7 linked regions of the Homo sapiens genome follow. The protein of the gene in region 1 purifies or fractionates together with the protein of each later gene. This does not show direct contact. Each region holds a gene or a part of one and is shown in the gene's direction. Other genes may lie near its edges.

The links.
Region 2: the proteins of RBMS1 (region 1) and ZC3H11A fractionate together in Homo sapiens (co-fractionation; one large-scale study listed by BioGRID). This does not show direct contact.
Region 3: the proteins of RBMS1 (region 1) and SUGP1 fractionate together in Homo sapiens (co-fractionation; one large-scale study listed by BioGRID). This does not show direct contact.
Region 4: the proteins of RBMS1 (region 1) and SNX3 fractionate together in Homo sapiens (co-fractionation; one large-scale study listed by BioGRID). This does not show direct contact.
Region 5: the proteins of RBMS1 (region 1) and RIDA fractionate together in Homo sapiens (co-fractionation; one large-scale study listed by BioGRID). This does not show direct contact.
Region 6: the proteins of RBMS1 (region 1) and MRRF fractionate together in Homo sapiens (co-fractionation; one large-scale study listed by BioGRID). This does not show direct contact.
Region 7: the proteins of RBMS1 (region 1) and NBEAL2 purify together in Homo sapiens (tandem affinity purification; one large-scale study listed by IntAct). This does not show direct contact.

What each region holds. Positions count from the first base shown.
Region 1 is NC_000002.12:160,483,808-160,487,307, reverse strand, and holds part of RBMS1 (RNA-binding motif, single-stranded-interacting protein 1), read left to right. Parts: intron 1-3,500.
Region 2 is NC_000001.11:203,844,123-203,847,622, forward strand, and holds part of ZC3H11A (zinc finger CCCH domain-containing protein 11A), read left to right. Parts: intron 1-3,061; coding exon 3,062-3,500. UniProt on the Homo sapiens protein: Through its association with TREX complex components, may participate in the export and post-transcriptional coordination of selected mRNA transcripts, including those required to maintain the metabolic processes in embryonic cells.
Region 3 is NC_000019.10:19,307,010-19,310,509, reverse strand, and holds part of SUGP1 (SURP and G-patch domain-containing protein 1), read left to right. Parts: intron 1-309; coding exon 310-413; intron 414-3,500.
Region 4 is NC_000006.12:108,223,041-108,226,540, reverse strand, and holds part of SNX3 (sorting nexin-3), read left to right. Parts: intron 1-3,495; coding exon 3,496-3,500. UniProt on the Homo sapiens protein: Phosphoinositide-binding protein required for multivesicular body formation. Specifically binds phosphatidylinositol 3-phosphate (PtdIns(P3)).
Region 5 is NC_000008.11:98,101,844-98,104,507, reverse strand, and holds the end of RIDA (2-iminobutanoate/2-iminopropanoate deaminase), read left to right. Parts: coding exon 1-19; intron 20-1,603; coding exon 1,604-1,666; 3' UTR 1,667-2,164; downstream 2,165-2,664. UniProt on the Homo sapiens protein: Catalyzes the hydrolytic deamination of enamine/imine intermediates that form during the course of normal metabolism. May facilitate the release of ammonia from these potentially toxic reactive metabolites, reducing their impact on cellular components.
Region 6 is NC_000009.12:122,323,882-122,327,381, forward strand, and holds part of MRRF (ribosome-recycling factor, mitochondrial isoform 1 precursor), read left to right. Parts: 3' UTR 1-3,500. UniProt on the Homo sapiens protein: Responsible for the disassembly of ribosomes from messenger RNA at the termination of mitochondrial protein biosynthesis. Acts in collaboration with GFM2. Promotes mitochondrial ribosome recycling by dissolution of intersubunit contacts.
Region 7 is NC_000003.12:46,996,666-47,000,165, forward strand, and holds part of NBEAL2 (neurobeachin-like protein 2), read left to right. Parts: intron 1-85; coding exon 86-168; intron 169-288; coding exon 289-381; intron 382-593; coding exon 594-768; intron 769-895; coding exon 896-1,029; intron 1,030-1,401; coding exon 1,402-1,561; intron 1,562-1,797; coding exon 1,798-1,900; intron 1,901-2,051; coding exon 2,052-2,214; intron 2,215-2,293; coding exon 2,294-2,452; intron 2,453-2,604; exon of another isoform or gene 2,605-2,634; coding exon of another isoform or gene 2,635-2,649; coding exon 2,650-2,809; intron 2,810-2,964; coding exon 2,965-3,050; intron 3,051-3,223; coding exon 3,224-3,500. UniProt on the Homo sapiens protein: Probably involved in thrombopoiesis. Plays a role in the development or secretion of alpha-granules, that contain several growth factors important for platelet biogenesis.

The sequences.
Region 1 (3,500 bases):
AGGCACTAAGATATATGTAGGATTAAACACTTTGCCATGTCTTTTGCAAGAAAGTGAAAAGTGCTAATAAAAGCTACAATAAATCTGGGAATTTTAGAAAGACATAAGGCTTTAAATGAATAAATGAATTTTTTTACTTACCAGCATTGTTTTGCATTTTTTCTGCTGTATAAATTCTTTTAAGAGTACTTAGAATTTTAAACGAATAATTTTTTTGTACTTTATGTTAACTTCTCCTTAAAGTTTCATATTCAATTAATTTATTTCACCCTATTATTTTTCTAGTTTTATGCTTACAAATGTGCTGTTAAGCCAACCTATTAGAGGTGTGGCAGGTTGGAAATGTACTCCTTAAATGATGGCATAGTGGTTATACAGAAATATAACTTTGATTGTTTTGAGCCATTTGGAATGATGTTTATTTCTCCTAACTGATTAGCTTTGCTTCCGGCAAAGGGGAGGAAATAAGTTTGGGGTTTGTAATGCTGCTAATTAGATCATTGCTTGCCTGCAATCTACACATTTATAATGTGTCTAATGTGGGCTGGCATTTCTTCAGAAAATAAGATGTTAAAAAATTATTCCTGATCTTTAGTGGATATCTCTTTATCTGGTCATCAGCCAGCTTTAATTCTTTCAAAATAAGATATTCACCTCTGCAACTGGATCCAAGTGCTTCAGGAGTCCTGTTGTCCTCTACTTGGCCTCAATATGGGCCCTGGAATCCATTCCTCAGGCTGCCCATTGAACAACATGCGCTATGCAGTTGGGCTGCTGGGTCCCAGATAAACAGTGATTTCAGGGAAAGGTTTTGTGCAACAAAATGAGATCATTTCATAGATGTCATAAATATTTTCACTGGTCCTGAAGGAAAAATGCATCATCTTCCCAGACCCATTTCACACAATACTAGAGGTGTTTCTTCTACAAGTTGAAAAACTGAATACTTAGAATGGCAGAATTGGATGGATACATCATAGAATGCCATGCTCCGAACTTGAGTTTCTTGGACTGGGGGTGGGGGGTGGAGGACAGGGAATCAAATTGCGAAAACAGAATTTTATATTATGAGCTTACATTTATATTATCCTCAAATAATACTATACTATTTCCCCTGTTAAATACTTTTTAAACATGATGATTTTGAGTTGCAATTGGGAGTATATTTGAATTGGAGAACCCCTAAACCCTCCCTTACCAGTAGAATTACAATGAAATACTTTCACAGTTTATATAATAAGGTCTCAGATAAAATATTTAGTCATTAGGAAAAGTAAATTATATTGATATTTGTAATATCGTCAACTTTACCTTTGTCTTCTCAACAACAATTTCGTTTCATCATCCAACAGGTTTTTGACAAATGCAGACATTTATAAAAAGAAAAATTTGCCAGAAAAATGTATTTTCAAGTCACTAGCTGAAATACTCCCACGACTCTCTTTGCCTCCTACAAAGTACAGCTCTGATTAATTTCATTGTTTCTAAAATGACATTCTTTTAAAAAGGTGCCTAATCTCAGCCTCTTTTTAGGTTTCATTCCATATGATCATTTGTATACTTCTATTTAAAAAACAATAAACACAGAAAGAATTACCTATCAGAGAACTGGCTACTAGATGATGTTTTTCTCATGCTCTATGTGATTTGTTCAAAAATTGGGTATACCTTAACTTATAAGTGAGTTGCATTTCCAACAATTTTATTCCAAACAGTTCGCTTGTCATTTGGTTATTTAAAACTTGAAATTCATTTCATAAATAAATAGTTATCCTTAATGATATGGTCCCCAGCGAACCTGTAAGAGTCTGTAAAAGTAACCCACTTTATAATTCACGTATAGTTCTCTACTAACACTGCCATTGAACCAAATCACCACATCAGATGTTTCTTGGAGAGAGGGGTGAGTTTTCAGAGTTAGATTTCCAGGAACTCGTCTTTGCTTTCTTTGGGTGAGTGGGAAGACAGGGTTCTTCTACAATCTTTCAACAAGGCTTTGCCCTTTTATGGCAGGGGAGGGGTTTCAAGAAGATGGGAGGTGCAGCTTGTGAAGTCACAGGGATCAGGGAGTTTGTGCTGGAGCTTCCTCTGGGGGTCCCCTGAGAGCCCTCTTCACTTCTAGACCCACTCACCTGTTTTCTTGTGCTGGCCTCAGAGATAAACTCGTTCCCTTTTCCCCCTAATTAAAATAAAATCTTTTCCTTTTAAGAGCCGAGGGTTCCTAGTACTGCTTCTCATGCTGAGCTTACCACTACTAGATTACTACAGCCTCACAGCTTTTCTTTACTCTCCTTCAGCCCTGAATCAAGCAAACATCTCTTGAGGCTGGCAACCAGAAGGAAACAAAAAGACAAAGTAAAAATTCTGTCTATCTCTTCCAATTCTCTTTTTACCTTTTCCTGGTTCGTTGATGCTTCGTAAATTTTTTTTTTTTTTTGAGACGGAGTCTTGCTCTGTCGCCCAGGCTGGGGTGCAGTGGCACAATCTCAGCTTACTGCAAGCTCCGCCTCCCGGGTTCACGCCATTCTCCTGCCTCAGCCTCCTGAGTAGCTGGGACTACAGGCGCCCGCCACCATGCCCGGCTAATTTTTTGTATTTTCAGTAGAGGCGGGGTTTCACCATGTTAGCCAGGATGGTCTCGATCTCCTGACCTCGTGATCCGCCCGCCCCGGGCCTCCCAAAGTGCTGGGATTACAGGCGTGAGCCACCGCGCCCGGCCAATGCTTCGTAACTTTTTAGGGAATCCCCAGACCCTAGACCTCCTTGAGAATCCGATGATGGCGTACATTTTTTTGTTGTTGTTGTTGTTGTGACGGAGTCTCGCTCGCTCTGTCGCCCAGGCTGGAGTGCAGTGGCGCGATCTCGGCTCACTGCAAGCTCCGCCTCCCGGGTTCACGCCATTCTCCTGCCTCAGCATCCCGAGTAGCTGGGACTACAGGCGCCCGCCACCACGTCCGGCTAATTTTTTGGATTTTTAGTAGAGGCGGGGTTTCACCGTGTTAGCCAGGATGGTCTCGATCTGCTGACCTCGTAATCTGCCCGCCTCGGCCTCCCAAAGTGCTGGGATTACAGGCATGAGCCACCGCGCCGGCCTATGGCGTACATTTTTATTAGCCTCAAATGTTTACCTAGAATCAGCCTGTGGAGCACAGGTTAAGAATCTTACCCAGGGTGGGGAGCAGTGGCTATGCCTATAATTCCAACACTTTGGGAGGCCGATGGGGGAGGATTGCTTGAAGCCAAGAGTTCCAGACCAGCCTGGGCAACATAGTGAGACACCGTCTCTTAAAAAAAAAAAAAAAAAAGAATTTTATCCTGGAAGGAAGACAAATACTGAACAAATCTATGCTTAAGAGGATGAATCAGACAGACCAGAGATCCCTTCATGTTTTTTTTCTGGGTTGTAGCTCAACAGACTCTGTGATGAAGAGCTGCACAAAAGCCAGTGTCCTGCAGAGTGGGCTTGGGTGGCATGAGGTCCATACCCCTATCCAGCAAGG
Region 2 (3,500 bases), on another chromosome or scaffold:
CTGGGATTACAGGCGTGAGCCACTGTGCCCGCCTTTATTTTTTATTTTTATTTTTGTTTGAGACAGAGTCTCACTCTCATCCAGGCTGGAGTGCAGTGGCGTGATCTCAGCTCACTGCAACCTCTGCCTCCCAGGTTAAAGCGATTCTCCTGTCTCAGCCTCCCGAGTAAATGGGATTACAGGCATGTGCAATCACGCCTGGCTAACTTGTATTTTTAGTAGAGACGGGGTTTCACCCTGTTGGCCAGGCTAGTCTCCAACTCCTGATCTGCCTCACCTCAAGTGATCTGCCTGCCTTGGCCTCCCAAAGTGCTGGGATTACAGGTGTGAGTCACTGCGCCTGGCCTGCTCTGGGATTTCTAATTCAAATCTTTATTTTTATTTTTAAAAGTTTGTGTATTATTTTGGCTTCTTAACCACTTCTTTTTATTTATTTTGGTTTATCTTAAATATTGTTGTTTTTCCATAGTTGTAAGTACCTGGCTTGGGTTTCCTTTCATTTTAAAGACCCTTTCCCCAAGTTGTCCTCTCTCCTGACTGGGAGACTCCATTTATGTCTGGCTAAGTGGAGAGGGTGTACTAACAGGCAGCTTGTATGGACTGAAGATGGGAGGTCTGGGGGCTCATACAATTGCCACAGTAAGACTTTATTTTCTGAGTGGAAACAACTTCTTTCCTTTTTCAGATTTGCTGTTTACTTTTATCCCTCCTCCCTCCCCTTTTTCTGCTTGGTATTGTGAAAGCTTGGGATTTTCATGCTCTACTTCTCTCCAGCCCCAACATCTTCATAATGTGCTCTTCGTGGGCAAACTTGCCTCTTTTTAGGGAGCAGTTCTCAGGAGGAGGTCATGACTGGCCCAACTGTTCTATAGGCAGTCCTTAAATTTCTACCCTAATGGTTATGTCAGATCCCACCGTTGCTTTTAATATTAGTTAACCCAAGTTTGACAGTTTCCTTTGACTGTATTGGGAGGAACAGAACTCACGCCTATGGTTTTAACTATTATTTTTCCATTTTTCTGTAAATTCAGACATCTGCTTTCTGTTTTAGAAATTCTTCAAGATGTATGCTCTGCCAGTGACATCCTTATTTCTCATTGCTGGTGTGGATTTATTTTATTTTTAATGTTTTATCATTTCAATGAAATTTTGGTAGGGGAGGGAAACAGGGCCTCTATGTCACCATTCATGTTGTACTTTCTTGGAGTGGTAATTTTGAAATGTTTGCCACCTTGGATTGAAAGAATTTGTGATTTTTTATTAAAGAACTTGAAGAACTAATTCAGTAAGTGAGTGCTTCCTTTGCAATATTACAGGTACCTAAATACAGTCGTTGTTCTCATGAAGTCTTTAGTGTGGTTGAAGATGCAATTACAGTGTACTGAGTGTTCAGTGCTTTGATCAGAAAAACTAAATTGGAGGGTATCAGGTTTTAAGCTGAATTCAGTTGAAACTAACCAGGCCTGGCGTGGTGGCTCACGCCTGTAATCCCAGCACTTTGGGAGGCCAGGCAGGTAAATCTCTTGAGACCAGGAGTTTTGAGACCAGCCTGGCCAACATGGCAAAACCCTGTCTCTACAAAAAATACAAAAATTAGCCAGGCGTGGTCGTGGGCACCTGTAGGCCCAGCTACTTGGGAGGCTGAGGCAGAGAATCACTTGAACCCAGGAGATGTAGGTTGCGGTGAGTCAAGATGACACCACTGCACACTCCAGCCTGGGCAACAGAGCAAAACTCTGTCTCAAAAAACAAGCAAACAAAAAACACAGGTAGCAAGAGAAATGAGAACAGCACGGAATACTCCAAGTAGAGGGAATAGTATACTCAGGAGTTTGGAAAGTGAGACAGAACACAGTATATTTTAAGATTTCAGACTGGGTATGGTGGCTCACACCTGTAATCCCAGCACTTTGATTGGCTGAGGCAGAAGGATCACTTGAAGCCAGGAGTTTGGAGACCAGCCTGGGCCACATAACAAGACCTCGTCTTTACCAAAAAAAAAAAAAAAAAAAAGATTTTGAAAAGATATAATTTTTTTGGGGGGGGGGTTCATTAAAAGCTGTTATTCAGTGATTACATATATATGTGTATGATCTCCAAATTATCATTTATTTCATAGCACTATCTCTTTTCATTATTTATTTTCTTAGCCCTTCAGTAATGAGAATGGTTCTATCTGTGAAGTGTGACATTTGGTCTTCAGTTTAGACAGATATAGAACGATTAATGTATCATTGAAAATAGCTCTTCAGTGGCATGCCAATTTCTGGGCCTTCTGCATTTTTCTTCTATCTTGTCACCTGTTTTACCTTCTTTTTATCCTTTAAATTTAATATCATTTCCTTGTAGACAAGTGTAGGTGTTCCTGCTGTGTCCTTTTATAGCATTATACCTACCTTATCAAAGCAGTTATCATTACCATACTCTGCTATAGCTAGTTTAATTATTGATCTGTTAGACTGTAAATTACATGTGGACAGAGATTTTATTTTGCTTACCATTGTATTTCTAGCCCAGTGTTCATTACATGTTTATAGCCATAAGTTAATGAAGAATTTATTGCTATTTTTGTTAAGATTTATAATGACAAATTTATCCAACTAGTAAATGGCTTTCAGTTTCTGAAGAATAAGCTTCTGAATAGAAATACAAATCAATTTTTGCCTCCAAAGAGTTTTCCTTGAGGACCACTGCCTGGAACTTGCAGTAATCTAAAATTGAAATAGAAACAATTAGCCGGGCTTGGTGGTGGGTACCTGTAGTCCCAGCTACTTGGGAGGCTGAGGCAGGAGAATCACTTGAACCCTGGGAGGCAGAGGTTGCAGTGAGCTGAGATTATACCACTGCACTCCAGCCTGGGTAACAGAGTGAGACTCTGTCTTAAAAAAAAAAAGAAAAAGAAAAAAAGGAAAAGAAATAAATGTTACCCTTTTGATCCTTTTAATTGCCTGCTTAAATGATAGCTCTCTGTTGGACTGTCTTGATCCAAGAATAGAGAGATCATAAGTCAGTAAGAGATGAACTTCAAGTATAATGACATGTTTTTCTCCTGTGAAAACAGATAAAGTTAATAAAGTTGGTGAGATCCATGTGAAGACATTAGAAGAAATTCTTCTTGAAAGAGCCAGTCAGAAACGTGGAGAATTGCAAACTAAACTCAAGACAGAAGGACCTTCAAAAACTGATGATTCTACTTCAGGAGCAAGAAGCTCCTCCACTATCCGTATCAAAACCTTCTCTGAGGTCCTGGCTGAAAAAAAACATCGGCAGCAGGAAGCAGAGAGACAAAAAAGCAAAAAGGATACAACTTGCATCAAGCTAAAGATTGATAGTGAAATTAAAAAAACAGTAGTTTTGCCACCCATTGTTGCCAGCAGAGGACAATCAGAGGAGCCTGCAGGTAAAACAAAGTCTATGCAGGAGGTGCACATCAAGACGCTGGAAGAAATTAAACTGGAGAAGGCACTGAGGGTGCAGCAGAGCTCTGAGAGCAGCACCAG
Region 3 (3,500 bases), on another chromosome or scaffold:
CAGGAGCCATCTTGTTGGAGGGCCATTTGGACCTGGAGGGTTAATATTCAGGCAGAGATAATACATGGAGTATTGCTTTTATCAGAACAAGATTGTTCCCAGCTTACCGTACTGAAGCCTGCTGTGCGCACTTCGCAGTAGTCTCTTGAAATCTCTGGGGGCCAGTTTGGGGTCCCAGTAGGTGAGAGTGCTGGGGTGAGTTAGGGGCCATGATGGACGAGGTGATGGCCTCATCCTCATCCTCGTCCTCTGGTGCCCTCACTCCATCTCTAGCCAGCTCACCCTCTCTGTCCTCTGTCTTGGTTCTAGAATCACAAATGCACACAACTCTTCCTGCATTTCCAACAAGTTTGCCAACGATGGTAGCTTCTTGCAGCAGTTTCTGAAGTTGCAGAAGGCACAGACCAGCACAGGTGAGTGTAGGCCTCCCCTTTCCTTGTGCTGTCCTTGCATCTCCCCCTGGGGTTGCTGGGCACATGGGAAGTGATGGGTCCCACCTCAGACTCCTGCTCACCGGTAATCATAGATCGCCCTCATTCCACCCATGCGTGCACCAAAGGCATAAATAAATAAATAATACATAAATAATTTTTTTTTTGAGACGGAGTCTCGCTCTGTGGCCCAGGCTGGAGTGCGGTGGCGCGATCTCGGCTCACTGCAAGCTCCGCCTCCCGGGTTCACCCCATTCTCCTGCCTCAGCCTCCTGAGTACCTGGGACTACAGACGCCCGCCACCACGCCCGGCTAATTTTTTAAATATTTTTAGTAGAGATGGGGTTTCATCATGTTATCCAGGATGGTCTCGATCTCCTGACCTTGTGATCCGCCCACCTCAGCCTCCCAAAGTGCTGGGATTACAGGCGTGAGCCACTGTGCCCGGCCTTTTGTATCTTTTTAGTAGGGACTGGGTTTCATTGTGTTACCAGGATGATCTTGATCTCCTGACCTCGTGATCTGCCCGCCTTGGCCATCCAAAGTGCTGGGGTAATAGGCGTGAGCCACTCCGCCCGGCCAGTAATTTTTGTTTTTTTGAGAGGGCCTCACTCTTGCTCAGGCTAGAATGCAGTAGTGCAATCATAGCACACTGCAGCCTCAACCTCCGGGGCTCAAGCAAACCTTCCACCTCAGCCTCCCTGTAGCTGGGGCTACAGGGGCATGCCACCACACCTGGCTAATTTTTTTATTTTTTGTAGAGTTGTGATTTCGCCATGTTGGTCACGCTGGTCTTGGACTCCTAAGCTCAAGCAATCCACCTGTCTCAGCCTTCCAAAGTGTTGACATTACAGGCAGGAGCCACTGTACCCAGCCCAAGTAATAAATATGTAAATTAATACCAAGGGGGCAGGCTGGGCGCAGTGGCTCACGCCTGTAATCCCAGCACTTTGGGAGGCCGAGACAGGCGGATCACCTGAGGTCAGGAGTTCGAGATCAGCCTGACCAACATGGTGAAACCCTGTCTCTACTAAAAATACAAAAATTAGCCGGGCGTGGTGGCAGGCGCCTGTAATCCCAGCTACTCGGGAGGCTGAGGCAGGGGAATCGGTTGAACCCAGGAGGTGGAGGTTGAGGTGAGCCAAGATCATGCCATTGCACTCCAGCCTGGGGGACAAGAGCGAGACTTCGTCTCAAAAAAAAAAAAAATTACCAAGGGGGCAAATGTAGACCCTGCACTCAATGTGCTTACCCTGTAGGAGCAGAGACAGATAAGTCAGATTTCAGTCTGGGGCAGGTGGAGCCATGATGAAGCCTTCCCCACACTTGTGAGACCACTTTGGGAGATGGGAGGCATCCCCAAGCTGGGTCAGCTTGAACCCACCAGCAGGGGTGAGCAGGTCTTCTGCATACAGGGTTTTCAGAGACACCGGGCTGGCCCGAGACACCTGAGCTGCATCAGAGAACAATAGGTTCTGGGGCCTGCTGCGGCTGAGGTGCCGGGTGGGCACGCAGCTGGGGGCACCCAACAATGACCACCAGGGCACTAGTGTTCATCGGGTACCACCCCGTGTGCCAGGGAATGTGGACTCAGTGCCTGCCATGTCCCTTGCTCCGTGCAAGCAGACCACGTCTGTGCTCTCACTGAATCCTCTGGAGGGACACCTCTCTCTACCTCTGTTTCCCTTTGGTAGACGTCTGATAACACACGTCGTATTCTCTTCACTCAGAATTCATAGATGTCGGCTGGGTGCGGTGGCTTATGCCTGTAATCTCAGCACTTTGGGAGGCCGAAGGGGACAGGATCGCTTGAGCTCGGGAATTCAAGACCAGCCTGGGCAACATGGCTAAGTCTCCTCTCTACAAAAAAAATACAAATAATTAGCCAGGCATGGTGATGCATAACTTTAACCCCAACTAATGGGGGGGCTGAGATGGGTGGATCACTTTTGGGCCTGGGAGGCGGAGGTAGCAGTGAGTGGAGATCACGTCACTGTACTCTAGCCTAGGAGACAGAGCAAGACTCCATCTCAAAAAAAGAAAACAAAAAAGAATTCATAGATGTAACATTTTGCCTTTGATACTTCTGATCTTTGTTAATCATGAAAAATACTCACTGGGCACAGTGGCTCACGCCTGTAATTCCAGCACTTTGGGAGGCCGAGGCGGGTGGACCTCCTCAAGTCAGGAGTTCGAGACCAGCCTGGCCAATGTGGTAAAACCCCGTCTCTACTAAAAATACAAAAATTAGCTGGGCATGGTGGCACACCCCTATAATCCCAGCTACTTGGGAGGCTGAGGTGGGAGGATTGCACGAACCTGGGAGGCAACCAGCTCTGCTCACGTGAGCTGAGCTCACGCCACTGCACTCCAGCCTGGGCAACAGAGCGAGACTAAGTCTCAAAAAGAAAAAAAAAAAAGAAAAATACCAGAGGTTGAAGTCCTCCCATCCCCCTTTCTTACAGGAAGTAACTGTCGAGAAATTGTGTGTCTGACAACCCCTGTTGTCCTCTCAGTCAAGCAGTGTGTGCCGTAGTTTCAGATGTTTGACCCTTTATGCAGATGACGACATAGTGTGCGTTTTGTTCCAAGCTTTTTTCTCTTACTCGACGTTATTTTTTTTAGGTCTAGATGGTCCAACTAAATCTCATTGAGTTCTGTAAGCAGCTGGTTACCTCCATTTCCACACTTTCCATTTAGGAAGCTAAGGCTTAAAAAGATGAAGCCCCTGCCAGGCATGGTGGCTCATGTCTGTAATCCCTTTGAGAGGCTGAGCTGGGAGGATCGCTTGAATCTAAGAGTGTGAGACCAGCCTGGACAGCCTAGCAAGAACCCATCTCTGCAAAAAATAAAAATAAAATTAGCCAGACATGGTGTCGTGCACCTGTAGTCCCAGCTACTCTGGAGGCTGAGCTGGGAGGATTGCTTGAGCCCAGGAGTTCAGGAGGTAGAGGCTGCAGTGAACCATGATTGCACCACTGCACTTCAGCCTGGGTGATAGAGCAAGACCCTGTCACTAAAAAAAAAAAGATGAGGTCCCCAAGTGCAGAGCCAGCATCTTTCATGATC
Region 4 (3,500 bases), on another chromosome or scaffold:
AATTCTGTGCTAATTAGTTCAAAGTCTGAATTAACGGACAGAATATAATCTAAGAGAATATATAGTGTTGAGTAGTATTTTTGGTAGGGTATGGCATTAGTTATTATGTTAAGTCATTTCTGTCTCCTACAAACTTTGTGATAATTTGCACATTTTAAAATCTTTTTGGCTGGGCACGGTGGCTCATGCCTGTAATCCCAGCACTTTGGGAGTCCAATACAGATGGATTGCGTGTACTCAGGAGTTCAAGACCAGCCTGAGCAACATGGTGAAACCCTGTCTCACCAAAAGTACAAAAATTAGCCAGATGTGATGGCATGCGCCTATAGTCTGAGCTACACAGGGGGTTGAGGTAGGAGAAATCACTTGACTTGACCCTGCCATGATCATGCCTCTGCTCTCCAGCCTGGGTTACAGAGTGAAACCCTGTCTCAAATAAAATTCTCAAATAAAATAAAATCTTTCTTCTCCTTTTTTTTTTTTTTTTTTTTTTTGAGAGAGAGGGTCTCATTTGTTGCCCATGCTGGAGTGCAGTGGTGCAATCATAATCATAGTTCACTACAGTCTGGAACTCCTGACTCCTGGGCTCAAGAGATCCTCCCACCTCAGCCTCCCAAGTAGTTAGGACTACAGGCACATGCCACCATACCCAGTAAATTTATTTTATTTTTTGTAGAGATGGAATCTTCTTATGTTTCCCAGGCTGGTAACTCTTGGCCTCAAGCAGTCCTCCCATCTCAGCCTCCCAAAGCACTAGGATTACAGGCATGAGCCACCATGCCTGGCCTAAAATCTATTCTTAATGATAAAATACTGGTCTCATACCACTCCTAATAGTCTTTAGTGTTTTTAGTCATAAACCATTTTTTATTGGATTTGGTAGCATCTTTTTTTTGTTTTGTTTTGTTTGAGTCAGAGTCTCACTCTGTCGCTCAGGCTAGAGTGCAGTGGAGCGATCTTCGGCTCACTGCCACCTCCACCTCCCGGGTTCAAGCAGTTCTCCTGCCTCAGCCTCCCAAGTAGCTGGGATTGCAGGCGCCCGCCACCATGCCCAGCTAAGTTTTGTATTTTTAGTGGAGACAGGGTTTCACCGTATTAGCCAGGCTGATCTCCTGCCCAGGCTGGTCTCTTGCCCAGGCTGGTCTTGAACTCCTGACCTTGTGATCGGCCCACCTCGGCCTCCCAAAGAGCTGGGATTACAGGCGTGAGCCACCACGCCAGGCCTAGCATATTTTTTCTTGTTGTTGTTTTTGTTTTTGGAGACGGAGTCTCGCTCAGTCGCCCAGGCTGGAGTGCAGTGGCGCGATCTCGGCTCACTGCAAACTCCGCCTCCTGAGTTCACGCCATTCTCCTGCCTCAGCCTCCTGAGTAGCTGGAACTGCAGGCGCCTGCCACTACGTCTGGCTGGTTTTTTTGTATTTTTAGTAGAAACGAGGTTTCACCTGTTAGCCAGGATGGTCTCGATCTCCTGACCTCGTGATCCGCCCGCCTCAGCCTTTCAAAGTGCTGGGATTACAGTCATGAGCCACCGCGCCCTGCCGCATATTTTTTCTTTAAAGGGGATCCAGTAAAAGATAATAGAAATCTTTCATGTTACTTTTTTTAAATTTAGAAGTTGACTGAAGTGGCAACAAGTAGCCTTTGCAATCTTAAAAAGAACAGTCTCCAGAAATTTTCTTACATTCCAGTGTAACTTCAAAGTACTGGGTGTTATGTTTTCAGTTCTTAAACTTGCCCTCCGCCTTTAAAGCTCTGGGTTTATGAGCTTGGTCTACTGAGTACGATTTAATTTCCTACTAGGGGTAAGACCCATAGACACTGTATGCAGCACTTTCCCTGCTTTTCTTGGCATTTTTTAGAAGGCCATTAAGAATAATGTTTTATTTAGGTCTTTTATTATGCAAGATCTAATCCAGTCCTCATAACAAAATATTTTGGTTTCATTTAGAAGCAGCTAAGTGGGCCAGGTGTGGTGGCTCACGCCTGTAATCCCAGCACTTTGGGAGGCTAAGGTGGGCAGATCACGCGGTCAGGAGATGGAGACCATCCTGGCTAACACGGTGAAACCCCCTCTCCACTAAAAATACAAAAAATTAGCGAGCCATGGTGGTGGGCATCTGTAGTCCCAGCTACTTGGGAGGCTGAGGCAGGAGAATGGCGTGAACCCAGGCGGCGGAGATCTCAGTGAGCCGAGATCACGCCACTGCACTACAGCCTGGGCGACAGAGCGAGATTCTGCCTCAAAAAAATAAATCAAAAAAAGTAGTTAAGTGAGCCAGCACAGTGGTATGACCCTGCAGTCCCAGCTACCCGGGAGGCCAAGGCGAGAGGATTGCTGGAGCCTAGGAGTTTAAATCCAGCCTGGGCAATGGAGTGAGACCCTGTCTCTGGGAGAAGAAAAAGAACTTCTACATCAACGGGCAGTGTGATAGGCATTGAGACATAGGTTAGGGTTTTGCTATGATGAATGAGCACCAAGAAAATAAAATTTTAAAAATTAAAAGGTAAGGTATATTTCCCCTATGAGGACTGTTTGCTGAGGTACTAGCTAAGCTGGAGAATAGTCAAGAGCTAGCCTTTTTTCACCCCTGCTTAGTTGACATTTTTAAAGCTCACTGAAATAATAAGAAAATGACCTACATTTATGTAAATATCCTCAGGCAGAATGACATCCAAAAGCATGCATGCAAAGGTACATTTAAAAGTTGTGTTCTTGTGTAAATACTTTTAAAGAACTAGTGGGCCAGGCAGTGGCTCAGGCCTGTAAGCGTAGCATTTTGGGAGGCCGAGGCAGCAGATCACTTGAGGTCAGGAGTTTGAGACCACCAGCCTGGCCAACATGGTGAAACCCCGCCTCTACTAAAAATACAAGAAAATTAGCCAGGCCTGGTGGCGAGTGCCTGTAATCCCAGCTACTTGGGAGGCTGAGGCAGGAGAATCACTTGACCCTAGGAGGTGGAGGTTGCAGTGAGCCAAGATCACATCACTGCCTGGGCGACAGTGAGATTCTGTCTCAAAAAAAAAAAAAAAAAAAAAAAAAAAAGAACTAGCAAAGTTTTATTTTGTTATGGGTAAAAGGTCATATTAAAAACATCATGATTTCGGCCGGGTGCCGTGGCTCATGCCTGTAATCCCAGCACTTTGGGAGGCCGAGGCGGGCGGATCACCTGAGGTCAGGAGTTCAAGACCAGCCTGGGCAACATGGTAAAACCCCATCTCTACAAAAATACAAAAATTAGCTGGGCATGATGGTGGGTGCCTGTAATCCCAGCTACTTGGGAGGCTGAGGCGGAAAAATCATTTGAACCTGGGAGGTGGAGTTTGCAGTGAGCCGAGATCGTGCCATTGCACTCCAGCCTAGGCAACAAAGGGAGATTCTGTCTCAAAAAAAGAAAAAGAAAGTCATGATTTCTTTTGTTTTGCCATACCCGTCCCCCCATTTTTTTGAAGTTTCCTTAATGTGCTTCAATTTAGGACTAACTTTTTTTGTTTCAGACAAA
Region 5 (2,664 bases), on another chromosome or scaffold:
AGTTGCTGCTTTACCCAAAGTAAGTACACTTTAAATGACTAATGTACACAGTTTTCAGTTTCTACATTGTTTTCCTTCTATAAGTAAACTAAGCACTGTGAAAGGAAACTTAAAAGAAGTAGCCTGGGCAGGGTGGCTTACCCCTGTAATCCCAGTGCTTTGAGAGGCCAACACAGGAGGATCGCTTGAGGCCAGGAGTTCTAGACCAGCCTGGGCAACATAGCAAGACAGCCATCCCTACAAAAACAATTTAAAATTAGCCATGCATGGTGGTGGTGCACACCTATAGTCCCAGCTACTTGGTAGGCTGAGGTGGGAGGAACACTTGAACCCAGGAGTTCAAGGCTGCAGTGAGCTATAATCGAACCACTGTGCTGCAGCCTGGGTAACAGTGTGACCTTGTCTCTTAAAAAAAAAAAAAAAAAGAAAAGAAATAGACCCTGCTTCCCCAGGGACTTAAAGTCTGAAAGGAAATATCCCATATTACATGCATGAAAAAAAAATTAAGAAACCTTTTAAGACAGCACATGAACATAGAATCAGAATCAAAATACTTAAATTGTGAGAAAAGGCCAGGCGCGGTGGCTCACGCCTGTAATCCCAGCGCTTTCGGAGGCCGAGGCGGGCGGATCACAAGGTCAGAAGATCGAGACCATCCTGGCTCACATGGTGAAACCCGTCTCTACTAAAAATACAAAAAAAAATTAGCCGGGTGTGGTGGCGGACGCCTGTAGTCCCAGCTACTCGGGAGGCTGAGGCAGGAGAATGGCATGAACCCAGGAGGCAGAGCTTGCAGTGAGCCGAAATCGCGCCACTGCACTCCAGCCTGGGCGACAGAGCGAGACTCCATCACAAAAAAAAAAAAATTGTGAGAAAAAATAAAATAGCAGCTGTACTGTTGTAGTGTTACTTAGGGGACTATAAATTTGAGCCAGGTTTGTTTGTGAGTTCTGCAGTAAAAATTTCACCTGGATATTGTACAATTAAAAATCTAAGCCTTCCACTAGAAAAATAATCTCTAAACCAGGGGCACACATATTTCTCACCATTTTGATTTTGCTACTTTTAACTCAAAGCTTAGCAGCACAATATTCCTGCCTATAAAAAAGCAGCTCTTACTGACTTCCACTTGCAGTTTCTACTAAAGAAAATTTATGTTTTAAGAGTGTCATTTGTATTGCTTTAATTAGTTGTTACTTGGAATGATCATTATCAAACCTATTAAGGTACTGGGTGTAGTAGAAAGAGCTCTGAACTTGGAATCACAAGACAAGGGTTCAACCTCTGCTATCTAGCTTGTGACTTGGGATGACTTAATTACTCCTTCTACACTTCAGCATATCATTCTGTGAATTGAGGGGAAAATACGTCTCTAATAGGGCTTCTGTGAGAATCACATAAGCTAATATAGTATATGAATATACCTAGCATGGTAACCTGGTCTGTTATAGGTTCTTGGTGAATATTTCCTTCTCCTTTCCTTCCTTGAAAAGTTTAATGTTAAAAATGTTATATTGCTGTTGGTTGCATGTTTTTAGTAGGTATTATAGAGTTTGCAATTTGTACAAAATGATTACAACAAATTCTTTCATTTTCCTCACAGGGCAGCCGAATTGAAATTGAAGCAGTAGCTATCCAAGGACCACTGACAACGGCATCACTATAAGTGGGCCCAGTGCTGTGTAGTCTGGAATTGTTAACATTTTAATTTTTACAATTGATGTAACATCTTAATTAACCTTTTAATTTTCACAATTGATGACAGTGTGAGTTTGATGAAAATATCTGAAGCTATTATGGAAATACCATGTAATAGGGAGAGTTGAACATGAATATTAGAGAAGGAATCCAGTTACTTTTTTAAATTACACCTGTGTGCACCTGTATTACTGAATATAGGAAAGAGATACCCATTACATAGTTACTCAGTAAACAAAAGAGAAATACCAGGTAGGAAAGAAGAGTTACTATTCCTGAGAAATAATCAAGAACATATTTAATTTAAACTAATGATGTGAACTATTTAGTTTTGATGTCCGTTATGTGATTCTGCTTTTACTTGAGTAAAATTAAAGTGTTTAAATTTGAGATCAAGGAGAAGATAGTGGAACAAAATGTTATATAGATAATATTTTTCTAATGGAAATAAAATAGGCAGATTTCCTTTGGTGTGATTTTGTTCACTTATTTCTTAACAGTTTATACATTAAAACGTATTGCCTAGTGGGGGCAGGTAAAGTTAAAATCTCCAACTATTTCATTTTTCAAAGCCTACTTCTGACTTCATACACTTTTTTTTGTTTTTGTTTTTGTTTTTTATTTTTGAGACAGAGTCTCGCTGTGTCTCCCAGGCTGGAGTGCAGTGGCGCGATCTCGGCTCACTGCACGCTCCGCCTCCCGGGTTCACACCATTCTCCTGCCTCAACCTCCTGAGTAGCTGGGACTACAGGCGCCCGCCACCACTCCCGGCTAATTTTTTTTTTATATTTTTAGTAGAGACAGCGTTTCACCGAGTTAGCCAGGACGGTCTCGATCTCCTGACCTCATGATCCGCCTGCCTTGGCCTCCCAAAGTGCTGGGATTACAGCTGTGAGCCACCGTGCCCAGCTGACTTCATACACTTTTATACAGTTTATTTTTTTCAACAGTTATGGCCAGCTATTA
Region 6 (3,500 bases), on another chromosome or scaffold:
TTTCTTGTGCAGGGTTACACACCTAGCAAGTAGCAGAGCTGGCATTCAAATTGAGGCCTGATGTGCTAATGTAAAAGGAAAAAAACAAACTTTTTTTCCTTTTGTACTTTCACACTCAACATGGAACACTTCTGTGACAAGGTGTGTGAGTTTGTTTCCCCCACACACCAAGCAATTCTCCAGCAGACACCAACTGGGTATCCTATAATTCAATTCATTTCTGACATTACCTGGAAATAGTGTCAGATCCCACAGGTTGAGGGCTCCATCTCCCAAGACTGCCAACACTTTTGATGCCAGTCATGAGTCTGGGCCACCCATACTCCTGACTGACCAACTACAAACTAGAGTCCTTGATTTCCTTTGGTTCAGTTAATTTCCTAGGACAGCTCACACAACTCAGGGAAACACGTTCACTGGTTTATTATAAAAGATACAGCTGAACAGCCCAATGAAGGAGGTACACAGGGCAAGGTTGAGGGAGAGGGAGAGGGTGTGGAGCTTCCATGCCTTCTCTGGGCTCACACTCTCTCAGCACCTCACCAATCTGGAAGGAACCACTGTGTCCTGCTGCCTTCATTAGCATTTAGTGAGCACCAATTGTTTGTCAGGTGCTGAACTATGTACTGGCAATACAAAAATGGGAAAGATATGACCCCTGTTTTGGGGGGGTACATAGTGCACTGAACTAAATTGCTGTCTATAATAATCTATTGGGTGGAAAAGTAGGAAGTTCATTCCAGTTCTGCAAGGTGTCTGCTTTCAGAATGGAGCCCACTTTGGTGGTGGCAAGGCCTGGCTGAGTTCTTTCAAAGCAACATCCAACTTCTCTTTGCTCTTTGACTTCCTCCAGATTCTCTCCTGTGCTGGAGGTAATAAGGGTTGCACTTCCCTCTTTACTTACACTGGTGAAACATGCAGTGAGGATTCAAGGTCAAAATTGGGTCAAAGTTAAACTAACACAGTCTCCTGCCCCACTTACCTGTCCTCTAACCCCATCCACCAGCCCTAAGTGGTCATCACATGATCAGAAGTCAGCTGGGGGAAGAGCAGGGATAGATAGAGCAATTAAGGAGCCTCTTTTGGGGTAAGCCACATGACAGGGGCTTTGCAACAGTCTTTCATGAGTGGCCGAAATCCCCCACTCACTGCAAATGTGCTTCTCAAAGATGCAGGATTTTTTAATAAACAGAGGAAATGATAAATTATGTTGTAATTCCACTCCAAAGGCATTTGGTTCTTAACAGCCAAATCCTCTGTAGTCTTTAAATAAACAAAAACTTATTTGGTGAACAGACAGGGAGGAAAATGAAAGATTTTCTGTACTTGGGTTCCACATGTCAACAATTTCTCTCCTGTGTGTATGTTGGCCAAAGCTGTATCATGATAAATGAATAAAGGAAAACCTCGAGCCCAGGGCAGTCAGACAGCTCAGCAAATGGCTTTCAGATGATTACTCAATTTCAGTTGACATTTATCAAAGAGTTTCTCTGTGACTCTGTGTCAGGGCTGTAGTGGTGACAGGGACAAGAATGAGACTACCTGTTTGGATGTGCTGAGAATGAGTAATGCTGGAGCAATTCATTCTCCATCTCTTCTCTCCTACAGCCTCTCTCAAAAAGAAACACTGGGTATGGAAATTCTCACACTTGCCAGAAGAATTAACCACCTCTTCTATTCAGTTTAATGACTTTCAAAGTCCTATGAAATATTCAGGCCAGAGAGAATTTGAGAATTTTTTTCCTGTCTGGTGTGTGTGTGTGTGTGTGTGTGTGTGTGTGTGTGTGTGTGTGTGTGTGTGTGTTGGAAATTACAAAATAAGTTGGAATGCAGAAAGTTAAAAAAAAAATCTCACCAGGCCCTACTCCTTTAAAATTAGGTATATATCTTTCCAGACCTCCTTTCTCTGTGCATATATGTGTGTGTGTGTGTGTGTGTTCGTTTCATTTTGTTTTGCCTTTGAGACAGTGTCTCACTCTGTCGCCCATCATGCAGTGGCACAATCATAGCTCACTGCAGCCTTGAACTCTTTGGCTCATGCAATTCTCCCACCTCAGCCTCCTGAGTAGCTGGGACTGCAGCTATGCACCACCACACCTGGCTTTTTTTTTTTTGCTTTGTTTCCTAGGCTGGTCTCAAACACCTGGCCTCAAGCGGTCCTTCTGCCTCAGCCTCCCAAAGCGCTGGGATTACAAGTGTGAGCCACTCTGCCTGGCCATATATAATTTTTTTTTTTTTTTTTTTGCAATGGAGTCTTGCTCTGTCGCCCACGCTGGAGTGCATTGGCGCAATCTCGGCTCACTGCAACCTCTGCCTCCCTGGTTCAAGCAGTTTTCCCTGCTTCAGCCTCCTGAGTAGCTGGGATTACAGGCGCCCGCCACCACACCCAGCTAATTTTTTATTTTTTTTTAGTAGAGATGGGGTTTCACCATGTTGGCCAGGCTGGTCTTGAACTCCTGACTCAGGTGATCCACCTGTCTCAGCCTCCCAAATTGCTGGGATTACAGGCATGAACCACTGCGCCCGGCCATATAATTTTTTAGAAGGAGAGAGGGGAACTATTCATATTCTGATGTTTGCTTTTTTTTCTTACCCTGTAACAATCATGGTCATCTGTCCATGTGTGTACATAATAGATACAATTTATTATTTCATTGTGATACAGTATTCCATAATATGGGTCTACCATAACTTAATTCACTATTAGCCCATGACACTATTTAAAAATTATTTCACATGCATTGGAGAATGTTTAAAGATGATTTTTTTTTTTAAGAAAAAAGAAAGGCCCCTATTCTAAGATTATCTGATAAGGTCTGCTCTTTCTCCTTCAACCTCAGGCTAACATTTATTGAATGCCTACAGTCGGCCAGGTTCCATGCTAGACCCTTTACACGTGTTCCCACATTGAAACTTCTGATGAATCCTTGTTAATGTAGGTGTTATGATTATCTGTGTTTTTCTGTGAAAAAAACAGGTTCAGAAAGGATATTTAACTTGCCCAAGGTCACACAGGTAGTAAGTGCTAGAATGAAATTTCAAACCCACATCTGACCTTGAAGTAGGTCCTTAATCAGTGTGCTTTGGTTCCCAAGTCTTCGCTGAACACTTACTCAAAAGGGACCTCGCGCTGTTCTGGACCTGGACGGTGATGTGAGAGAAGCAGAAGTCTTGCTTTCATAAAACACATAGCAAGCTGTTCCTAATTAATGACTGCAAGTAAAATAGCATAGTACCTGGCACATTGTAAACACCAAAGAAATGGTAGCTCTTATGGAGACAGTAAAGATTACATATTAATCCCCCACCTGTTTGGCCAACTTCTCTAGAATATGTCAGAGAGCAAGCAAAATGTTCACCAAGCAGTGAATAATGATAATAATAACAACAATAACAGTATTGACAGATCAGTAACTAATATTTGCTTGGTGCTTTTTAGTTTTCAAACTGCTTCTACATTCTTTGTTGCATTGAAACCACTCAGTGAAACTTTGCGGTTA
Region 7 (3,500 bases), on another chromosome or scaffold:
GGGGTCTCTCCTGTGGTCAGGCAGTCTCTGGATGGGGTTTGGCCAGAGGCCTAGCAAGGTCTGAAGCCCCCTGCCCACCTCCCAGGGCCCAATGAGACGGCACCCTTCAAGCCTGAGGGGGAGCTGCATGAGCTCAGCACCAGGCTGCTCCTCCATTACTCACCTCAGGTATTTGGGGGCCCCAGGGGAGTGGTTGGCTCGACTGTGCTACTTCCCCGGCTCCCACACTCTGCCTGCCACCCCCTCCTCCCTCTGACCCTGGCTGCCTGCCCATTCCCCTATCCCTAGGCTTGTAAGAACAACATCTGCCTGGACCTGTCCCCCAGTCATGGGCTTGATGGGCGCCTGACGGGCCACAGAGTGGAGACCTGGGATGTGAAGGTCTGTGAGCACGTGTGGGTGGTGTGTGCAGGAGGCATGAATATGGGGCACATGTGTGTTCGGAGTCAGCTGGGGAGCAGCGCTGTGCCTGGGGAGGATTTGGACAGTCCAGCTCAAGAGAGCAAAACTTCCTTTCTGGGTGGTCTGCTGGGGTGGAGTAGGGCAGGAAACTGGCTGGAAGGTCCCCCTCACTGCCATCCTCCTTCCCCCAGGATGTGGTGAACTGCGTTGGGGGTATGGGTGCCCTGCTGCCCCTGCTGGAGCGAGTAGCTGCACAGCCCAAAGAGGCTGAAGCAGGTCCAGCTGAAACGCATGACCTCGTGGGTCCTGAACTGACCTCTGGTCACAACACCCAGGGCCTGGTTCTCCCATTGGGTAAATCTTCAGGTAAGTGTTCCTGGTGCCTATGTTGTGGAGAGGGAATCTTGGCATGGTAGGGGGGTGGAATGCCCAAGGTCTCCTGGCCACTGGCAGGCCCTTGACACACATCTGTCCCCTTCCTGATGGCTGGCAGAGGAACGGATGGAGAGGAACGCAGTGGCTGCTTTTCTGCTGATGCTGCGGAACTTCCTTCAGGGTCACATGGTGAACCAAGAGAGCCTGGTGCAGTGCCAGGGGCCTGCCATCATCGGGGCCCTCCTGCGAAAGGTGGGGCCCGGTGGGACAGGCATGGGGGTTAGGGGTATGGTCAGCCTGTCTGACCGAGGGGACTGAGTGGGGAACCCTGTCAGTCATGAAGAACCTCCTGGGAGAGTTGCCACTTGAGTGGGGCCTGAAAGGCCGAGCAGGGTTGGGTCTGGAGGATCTGGGGAAAGGCCCAGCACAGGTCGGGGCAGGGACCCGCACAGCAGGCAGGAGGCTTGCGTGTCAGAGGCGGCAGGAAGCCCCCAAAGGGTTCTGAGCAGGCTGGTGGCCATGTTTGTGGCCGTCATGGCTGTGCAGGGAAGAGTGGCAGCTGAAAAGCTCAGACAGCAGACAGGCAGAGCCTGAGCCCTCACTCCAGCTCCTGTCTTATCCCAGGTCCCAAGCTGGGCCATGGACATGAACGTGCTCATGTCCGCCCAGCTGCTGATGGAGCAGGTGGCAGCTGAGGGCAGCGGGCCCCTCCTGTACCTACTCTACCAGCATTTGCTCTTCAACTTTCACCTCTGGACCCTCAGTGACTTCGCCGTGCGCCTCGGTAGGTGTGAGGACCTGAGCAAGGGGCCGGCCATAGGGCAGCTGAGCACTGAGAAGTTAGAACTCTGCTCTGGGGGATCTGAGGGACTCACCTGTTAGGAATCCAGAATGCCATGGGGCGGCTGAGGGGACTATGACCCTGCCCTGGAAGTCTGACAGGCACATGGCCCTGGCCTGGAGGATCTGAAGGGCCCAGCTCAGCCTAGTGGCCTGAGCCCTCTGCTCATTCCCGCTCAGGTCACATCCAGTACATGTCCAGCATAGTTCGGGAGCACAGACAGAAGCTGCGGAAGAAGTACGGCGTCCAGTTTATCTTGGATGCTCTGCGCACCCACTACAGGTGAGGCCAGTGGGGCCAGATGGGCCATGGGGGGCTGACACAGTGGCCTCCGGCCTTGGGGACTGGGCGGTGCGCTTCCCTGACTCACCTGCCCACCCTCTCTCCCCGCCTTTCTTTGGGACCTGGCTGGGTGTGCCTACTGACCTGCCAGCCCGCAGCGGGAGCGCCCCCTGGCTGCTGACGACCTACGCACCGTGCAGACCTCCCTCCTGGGCCTGGCGAGGGAGTTCCTGGTGCGGAGTCTCTCAGCAGATGACGTGCAGGTCACGCAGACCATGCTGAGCTTTTTGGCGGCCACAGGCGATGACGGTCAGGTAGGCTGGAGGTTGGGGAGCGGGAGGCTTGGGTGAGGGGAGTGGGGGCCCGACACAGTGTGAGACCCTGCATCCCCAGGCGGTGGGTGCGCTGGACCTGCTGCTGGCCCTGCTGCACGGTTCCCTGGTGCAGGAGTCCTTGGCTGTCTTTCTGTTGGAGCCAGGGAACCTCGAAGTGCTACTGGCCCTGCTAGTGCGGCCAGGGTCACTGCCCCTGCTGCCCGATCGAGTCTGCAAGGTACACCCAGCCCACCCCCTCCCCTGGCATCCCATTCACTGGGGCCCCTGCCTGGGGTTCAGGGAGGTACAGCAGGCCTTGGGCCAGCGGATGAAGCTGCCTTCAAGGGCCTCTTGAGCCACACACCTGCACGGTGACTTCCCCTCCTACAGTAACTCCTTCCACATGATGACAGTCCTCCGATGACCCCCACACAGATCCTGCGCAGACTGCAGCAGAATGAGCGGCTACCTGAGCGGAGCCGCCAGCGCCTCCGGCTGCGGGAGTGTGGTCTCCAGGGTCTGGTTGCCTGCTTGCCTGAGGGGACTGTTTCCCCCCAGCTCTGCCAGGGCCTCTACAAGCTGTTCCTGGGGGCAGGTACAACCTGGTTAAGGCCAAGTGGAGGGGGTGACATGTCAGAAAAACAGGGCAGGCAGGCCGGAAGAAGGAAGATAGTGGCATAGGGGCCAGGGCTGGGCCCTGCCCTTTCTAGTCTGGTCAGTCCCTCAGGTCCCCCCAACCCATCCCCCCAGATTGCCTGAACCTCTCAGATCTGCTGGCTGTGGTACAGCTGTCCCTCCAGGCTGACCTCAGCGTTCGCCTAGACATCTGTCGCCAGGTGAGCATGAGAGGTAAAAGCTTTGGGGGAGGGGGAGGGTGGCTTCTACCCTCTGGCCTTCCACCTTGCCTGTCTCATGAGGGGTCTCTGGAGCCCTCCTCTGCAAAGGCCCTGGATGAGGGTCTGGAGCAGGCAGTTGGATGCGTCCTCACTTGCTGTGCTCTCGCCTGCAGCTTTTCCACCTCATCTACGGACAGCCAGATGTAGTGCGGCTTCTGGCCCGACAGGCTGGCTGGCAAGATGTGCTGACCCGGCTATATGTCCTGGAGGCTGCCACAGCCGGCAGCCCCCCTCCGTCTTCCCCAGAGTCACCTACCTCCCCCAAGCCAGCCCCACCCAAGCCACCCACTGAGTCACCTGCTGAGCCTTCAGATGTCTTCCTGCCCTCAGAGGCCCCCTGCCCTGACCCTGATGGCTTTTACCATGCTCTCTCCCCATTCTGCACGCCCT